2 linked regions of the Homo sapiens genome follow. The protein of the gene in region 1 purifies or fractionates together with the protein of each later gene. This does not show direct contact. Each region holds a gene or a part of one and is shown in the gene's direction. Other genes may lie near its edges.

Evidence for each region. Proteins that work in one complex are often made in the same cells at the same time.
Region 2: the proteins of SUDS3 (region 1) and BCL11A purify together in Homo sapiens (affinity purification with mass spectrometry, with the first as the bait; one large-scale study listed by BioGRID). This does not show direct contact.

What each region holds. Positions count from the first base shown.
Region 1 is NC_000012.12:118,407,555-118,411,054, forward strand, and holds part of SUDS3 (sin3 histone deacetylase corepressor complex component SDS3), read left to right. Parts: intron 1-3,500.
Region 2 is NC_000002.12:60,459,655-60,463,154, reverse strand, and holds part of BCL11A (BCL11 transcription factor A), read left to right. Parts: intron 1-730; coding exon 731-2,751; 3' UTR 2,752-3,500. UniProt on the Homo sapiens protein: Transcription factor. Associated with the BAF SWI/SNF chromatin remodeling complex. Binds to the 5'-TGACCA-3' sequence motif in regulatory regions of target genes, including a distal promoter of the HBG1 hemoglobin subunit gamma-1 gene.

The sequences.
Region 1 (3,500 bases):
AGTTGAATTTCTTGGGTTTGGGTTCTAAGTACCACTGAAGGAAAATACAATGCATCTCATGAGAATTGTTGGAATAGCCTTCCAGAGTCAGCTGTTTTCTTTAAAAGACCTTTGTGAGGATATGATACATGGATACACATGTAACATGTATATGTGTTATTTTTGGTTTTTTTTTTTTTTTTGAGACAGAGTCTCGCTCTGTCGCCCAGGCTGGAGTGCAGTGGCGCAATCTTGGCTCACTGCAGACTCCGCCTCCCAGGTTCAAGCGATTCTCCTACCTCAGCCTCCTGAGTAGCTGGGACTACAGGCACACGCCAATATGCCTGGCTAATTTTTTGTATTTTATTTATTTATTTATATTTTTTGAGACAGAGTCTCGCACTGTCACCCAGGCTGGAGTGCAGTGGCGCCATCTCAGCTCACTGCAACCTCCGCCTCCCGAGTTCAAGCTGTTCTCTCCCTCAGCCTCCCAAGTAGCTGGGACTACAGGCACCCGCCACCACGCCCAGCTAATTTTTGTATTTTTAGTACAGACGGGGTTTCACCATGTTCGCCAGGATGGCCTCTATCTCCTGACCTCGTGATATACCCGCCTCGGCCTCCCAAAGTGCTGGGATTACAGGCGTAAGCCACTACGCCTGGCCAATTTTTTGTATTTTAGTAGAGACGGGGTTTCACCTTGTTGCCCAGGCTGGTCTCGAACCCCTGAGCTCAGGCAATCCACCCACCTTGGCCTCCCAAAGTGCTAGGATTACAAGCATGAGCCACCATACCTGGCCAGTTTTTTTTTTTTTTTTGAGACAGAGTCTCGTTCTTCCAGCCAGGCTGGAGTGCAGTGGCATGATCTCAGCCCACTGCAGTCCCTGCCTCCTGGGTTCAAGCAATTCTTGTGCTTCAGCCTCCCGAGTACCTGGGATTACAAGCGCACACCACCATGCTGGCTAATTTTTGTAATTTTAGTAGAGATGGGGGTTTCACCATGTTGGTCGGGCTGGTCTTGAACTCCTGACCTCAAGTGATCCACCCACCTCGGCCTCCCGCAGTGCTGGGATTACAGGCGTGAGCCACTGCACCCAGCTGTAACATGTGTATGTTTTATCATAAACACAGGAACATAGTTGACATAGTTTTTTTTGGTTTTTTTTTTTTTACCTACCAGTATATGGAGCATGTTTCCACACTCGTAATATTCTACACCACATCCATGACCTTTCTTTATTAAAGTGTTTAGAAAGTTGTATCAGAATGACTTGAGGGTAGTTGCATTTTGTTTTGTGTCTTTATCTCTTTAATAACTTACAGTCCCTTTAGAACAACTGTGAGTATTCTCCCTCTGTATTTTTATTTTAACCATTACTCAAGACATGACTGTTTACATAGGAGAGCTGGCTCAGATGTGAGAGAGAAACAAGGGGAAGTGTTAGTGTTAGTATGAACTTAGCCTTTTCTTATGCATTGTACAGTTCGGCCCTTGTGATAATACATATTTAGCATAATGAAGGTCCCCTGCCAGTTTACCAACTAATAAAGGGCCAAAAGCAACTTTAAAACTTGCATTTAAACCATTCTCGCTGTTCTAATTGAATTTAAAATTCTTTTTTTTTTTTTTTTAAGATAGAGTCTCGCTCTGTTGCTCAGGCTGGAGTGCAGTGGCATGATCTTGGCTTGCTGCAAGCTCCGCCTCCGGGGTCAAGCAATTCTCCTGCCTCAGCCTCCCGAGTAGCTGGGATTACAGGAGCCTGCCACCACTCCCGGCTAATTTTTGTGTTTTTAGTAGAGATGGGGTTTCACCATGTTGGCCAGGCTGGTCTCGATCTCCTGACCTTGTGATCTGCCCACCTTGGCCTCCCAAAGTGCTGGGATTACAGGCGTGAGCCACCACGCCCGGCCTAAAATTCTGTTTCTTTTAACAGTATTTTCAGAAAGTACATTGACTTGGAAACCTGAGTTTTCAGTTCATAAGTAGCAGGTTAAAGAGAATTGAGACCCTAGACTGGAAAAAGCTCATTATGGGAGTGAAGTGCATCCTTTACTTGCCATGTCTTGGCAATAGGTTATTTCCTTATACCAGCAAAACAGAATAAGCCATCATGCTTTGCTGGGAGATGTGTTTTACTAAATTTACACGAGTTTATGGGTCTGGTTAGCCAGATCTTTGCAGCCAAAATGAACCAAAGTTTATGTTATTAATCGACGTGGGGCTGGCCCAGGCCAGGGTTGCTAGCTGCAGCTCCGCTGATACTTCCAACTCTTGTAATCCAGCAGGGGCTCCTTCATCCTGTGGCAGCTGCTTTTGTCCCATTTGGGCTTTGGCCCCCAGCAACTTCACTTTCATCCTTGGCCTTGTCTCTGAACTTGTAGAAATAAGAAGTGGCCCTACACTACAGGTTGAGAGTAGATGCAGGAGTTGAAAGGGGAGTGTCTGTCTTATCTACTGTATTCAAAGCAGCTTTCCCAACTGTCCAGGCCAAATTAGATACCCTTTGGTATACGTCATGGCACTTGGAACTTTGCCTGATTAGCTGTTACCAGGTGTGGTTATTTAATGTTCCTTATCCCCAGTGTATTTGAATCTCTGTGATAGTGGAGAACTTGTGGCCTTTCTCACTGTTTGTCCCCAGCCTCCAGCATAGTCCGTGGTACACAGTAAGTGCTTAATGAGTATTTTTGAATGACTGACTAAAGGGTTAAAGTCAGCCTTCCTTCTTGTTGGTGACTGACTTGGACAAATAGAAAATAAATAACGGTGGCTTATGCCTGTATATTTTGTCTGTCCAACCTTCTTCAGTGTTCTGGTGTGGGGTCAGAAAGGGGAAACAGAGTTTTTATTTAACAATTTTTAATTTACTTTTTGAACTGGGTCATATAGTCCAAAAAAAGGGAAAAATACATAGTTTTCCAACACTTTCCTCAGCCTTTTCCCTTCTGTAGAGGGACCAAGGAATATAAGCTTTAGATCCCAAAGAAGATTAGGTGGTCTTCTAACCTAAGGATGGAAGCCTTTATTTATTTATTTATTTATTTATTTTATTTATTTATTTATTTATTTATTTATTTTTTGAGATGGAGTCTTGCTCTGTCGCCCAGGCTGGAGTGCAGTGGCGCCATCTCGGCTCACTGCAAGCTCCGCCTCCCGGGTTCACACCATTCTCCTGCCTCAGCCTCCCAAGTAGCTGGGACTATAGGCACCTGCCACCATGCCCGGCTACTTTTTTTGTATTTTTAGTAGAGACGGGGTTTTACCGTGTTAGCCAGGATGGTCTTGATCTCCTGACCTTGTGATCCGCCTGCCTCGGCCTCCCAAAGTGCTGGGATTACAGGCTTGAGCCACCGCGCCTGGCCTCAGGATGGAAGCCTTTAAATTAAGCTAAATGGGAAATCCAGGCTATTCCTCAAATGTGAATTATTAAGACTTCTTTAATTATAATTTTTGTTGTGATGGTGTTTTTGTTTTGTTTGGTTTTTACTTCCTGTCTCTGTCCCTCCCTTTTTAAAAATGT
Region 2 (3,500 bases), on another chromosome or scaffold:
AAAATGGACGTCCCCATGGGGTGTTGTGGAACCAAAATTGGGACTCACTGATCCTCCCACAGTCTGGGGTGTGAGAATGTTGCTAGTCTTTTTTCCACGGAAGTATTTTATGAGTACCCTCTCATTTTAACAATATCAACAATTAGTGTGTTTCAGGCTAATGCTGAAAGCATCTTTAGGGCCATAGAACATTGTAGTGAGTTGACCTTCTTCCCCTTTTTTGATACCTCTATGAAATGTTTGCCTATTTAGAAAGTTCACCTGTCACCCAGGGGGGAATAGAAAGCTGGGATTTAGGAAGCCAAAAAGTTTCCTTGGGTCACCTTGTCCAAGTTTCTCACTTAACAAGGAGGAAACAGAGGCACATGGAGATGAGATGGCTTGCCCCAAACTACAGCTGATGGAACTGGAAAGTTTAGAAGACATTTGTTGAGGTGCCTAGAATGTAGGGACCTTCATCCTCAAGCCAGAACTGGTCAGGATTTTTCTGCTTTGGGGATTGGATATAAAATTTCTAGAACTGAGTTTAATGGCAGGAAGATCAATTGGACCAATATTTACTGGGTACCCATGCTCAGACGTGCCAGGCACAGGGGGTAGGTCAGTGAGGGCTTAGGCCTTGGGGTTGAGGGGTGGGGGCAGGGAAGGCTGGAGGTGGAACATAAATAAGCAATTGCTGATGCCCGCCTCAGTGATTAAACATTGATGTTGGTGTTGTATTATTTTGCAGGTAAAGATGAGCCCAGCAGCTACACATGTACAACTTGCAAACAGCCATTCACCAGTGCATGGTTTCTCTTGCAACACGCACAGAACACTCATGGATTAAGAATCTACTTAGAAAGCGAACACGGAAGTCCCCTGACCCCGCGGGTTGGTATCCCTTCAGGACTAGGTGCAGAATGTCCTTCCCAGCCACCTCTCCATGGGATTCATATTGCAGACAATAACCCCTTTAACCTGCTAAGAATACCAGGATCAGTATCGAGAGAGGCTTCCGGCCTGGCAGAAGGGCGCTTTCCACCCACTCCCCCCCTGTTTAGTCCACCACCGAGACATCACTTGGACCCCCACCGCATAGAGCGCCTGGGGGCGGAAGAGATGGCCCTGGCCACCCATCACCCGAGTGCCTTTGACAGGGTGCTGCGGTTGAATCCAATGGCTATGGAGCCTCCCGCCATGGATTTCTCTAGGAGACTTAGAGAGCTGGCAGGGAACACGTCTAGCCCACCGCTGTCCCCAGGCCGGCCCAGCCCTATGCAAAGGTTACTGCAACCATTCCAGCCAGGTAGCAAGCCGCCCTTCCTGGCGACGCCCCCCCTCCCTCCTCTGCAATCCGCCCCTCCTCCCTCCCAGCCCCCGGTCAAGTCCAAGTCATGCGAGTTCTGCGGCAAGACGTTCAAATTTCAGAGCAACCTGGTGGTGCACCGGCGCAGCCACACGGGCGAGAAGCCCTACAAGTGCAACCTGTGCGACCACGCGTGCACCCAGGCCAGCAAGCTGAAGCGCCACATGAAGACGCACATGCACAAATCGTCCCCCATGACGGTCAAGTCCGACGACGGTCTCTCCACCGCCAGCTCCCCGGAACCCGGCACCAGCGACTTGGTGGGCAGCGCCAGCAGCGCGCTCAAGTCCGTGGTGGCCAAGTTCAAGAGCGAGAACGACCCCAACCTGATCCCGGAGAACGGGGACGAGGAGGAAGAGGAGGACGACGAGGAAGAGGAAGAAGAGGAGGAAGAGGAGGAGGAGGAGCTGACGGAGAGCGAGAGGGTGGACTACGGCTTCGGGCTGAGCCTGGAGGCGGCGCGCCACCACGAGAACAGCTCGCGGGGCGCGGTCGTGGGCGTGGGCGACGAGAGCCGCGCCCTGCCCGACGTCATGCAGGGCATGGTGCTCAGCTCCATGCAGCACTTCAGCGAGGCCTTCCACCAGGTCCTGGGCGAGAAGCATAAGCGCGGCCACCTGGCCGAGGCCGAGGGCCACAGGGACACTTGCGACGAAGACTCGGTGGCCGGCGAGTCGGACCGCATAGACGATGGCACTGTTAATGGCCGCGGCTGCTCCCCGGGCGAGTCGGCCTCGGGGGGCCTGTCCAAAAAGCTGCTGCTGGGCAGCCCCAGCTCGCTGAGCCCCTTCTCTAAGCGCATCAAGCTCGAGAAGGAGTTCGACCTGCCCCCGGCCGCGATGCCCAACACGGAGAACGTGTACTCGCAGTGGCTCGCCGGCTACGCGGCCTCCAGGCAGCTCAAAGATCCCTTCCTTAGCTTCGGAGACTCCAGACAATCGCCTTTTGCCTCCTCGTCGGAGCACTCCTCGGAGAACGGGAGTTTGCGCTTCTCCACACCGCCCGGGGAGCTGGACGGAGGGATCTCGGGGCGCAGCGGCACGGGAAGTGGAGGGAGCACGCCCCATATTAGTGGTCCGGGCCCGGGCAGGCCCAGCTCAAAAGAGGGCAGACGCAGCGACACTTGTGAGTACTGTGGGAAAGTCTTCAAGAACTGTAGCAATCTCACTGTCCACAGGAGAAGCCACACGGGCGAAAGGCCTTATAAATGCGAGCTGTGCAACTATGCCTGTGCCCAGAGTAGCAAGCTCACCAGGCACATGAAAACGCATGGCCAGGTGGGGAAGGACGTTTACAAATGTGAAATTTGTAAGATGCCTTTTAGCGTGTACAGTACCCTGGAGAAACACATGAAAAAATGGCACAGTGATCGAGTGTTGAATAATGATATAAAAACTGAATAGAGGTATATTAATACCCCTCCCTCACTCCCACCTGACACCCCCTTTTTCACCACTCCCCTTCCCCATCGCCCTCCAGCCCCACTCCCTGTAGGATTTTTTTCTAGTCCCATGTGATTTAAACAAACAAACAAACAAACAGAAGTAACGAAGCTAAGAATATGAGAGTGCTTGTCACCAGCACACCTGTTTTTTTTCTTTTTCTTTTTCTTTTTTCTTTTTCCTTTTTTTTTTTTTTCCTTTATGTTCTCACCGTTTGAATGCATGATCTGTATGGGGCAATACTATTGCATTTTACGCAAACTTTGAGCCTTTCTCTTGTGCAATAATTTACATGTTGTGTATGTTTTTTTTTAAACTTAGACAGCATGTATGGTATGTTATGGCTATTTTAAATTGTCCCTAATTCGTTGCTGAGCAAACATGTTGCTGTTTCCAGTTCCGTTCTGAGAGAAAAAGAGAGAGAGAGAGAAAAAGACCATGCTGCATACATTCTGTAATACATATCATGTACAGTTTTATTTTATAACGTGAGGAGGAAAAACAGTCTTTGGATTAACCCTCTATAGACAGAATAGATAGCACTGAAAAAAAATCTCTATGAGCTAAATGTCTGTCTCTAAAGGGTTAAATGTATCAATTGGAAAGGAAGAAAAAAGGCCTTGAATTGACAAATTAACAGAAAAACAGAACAAGTTTATTCTATCATTTGGTTTTAAAATATGAGTGCCTTGGATCTATTAAAACCACAT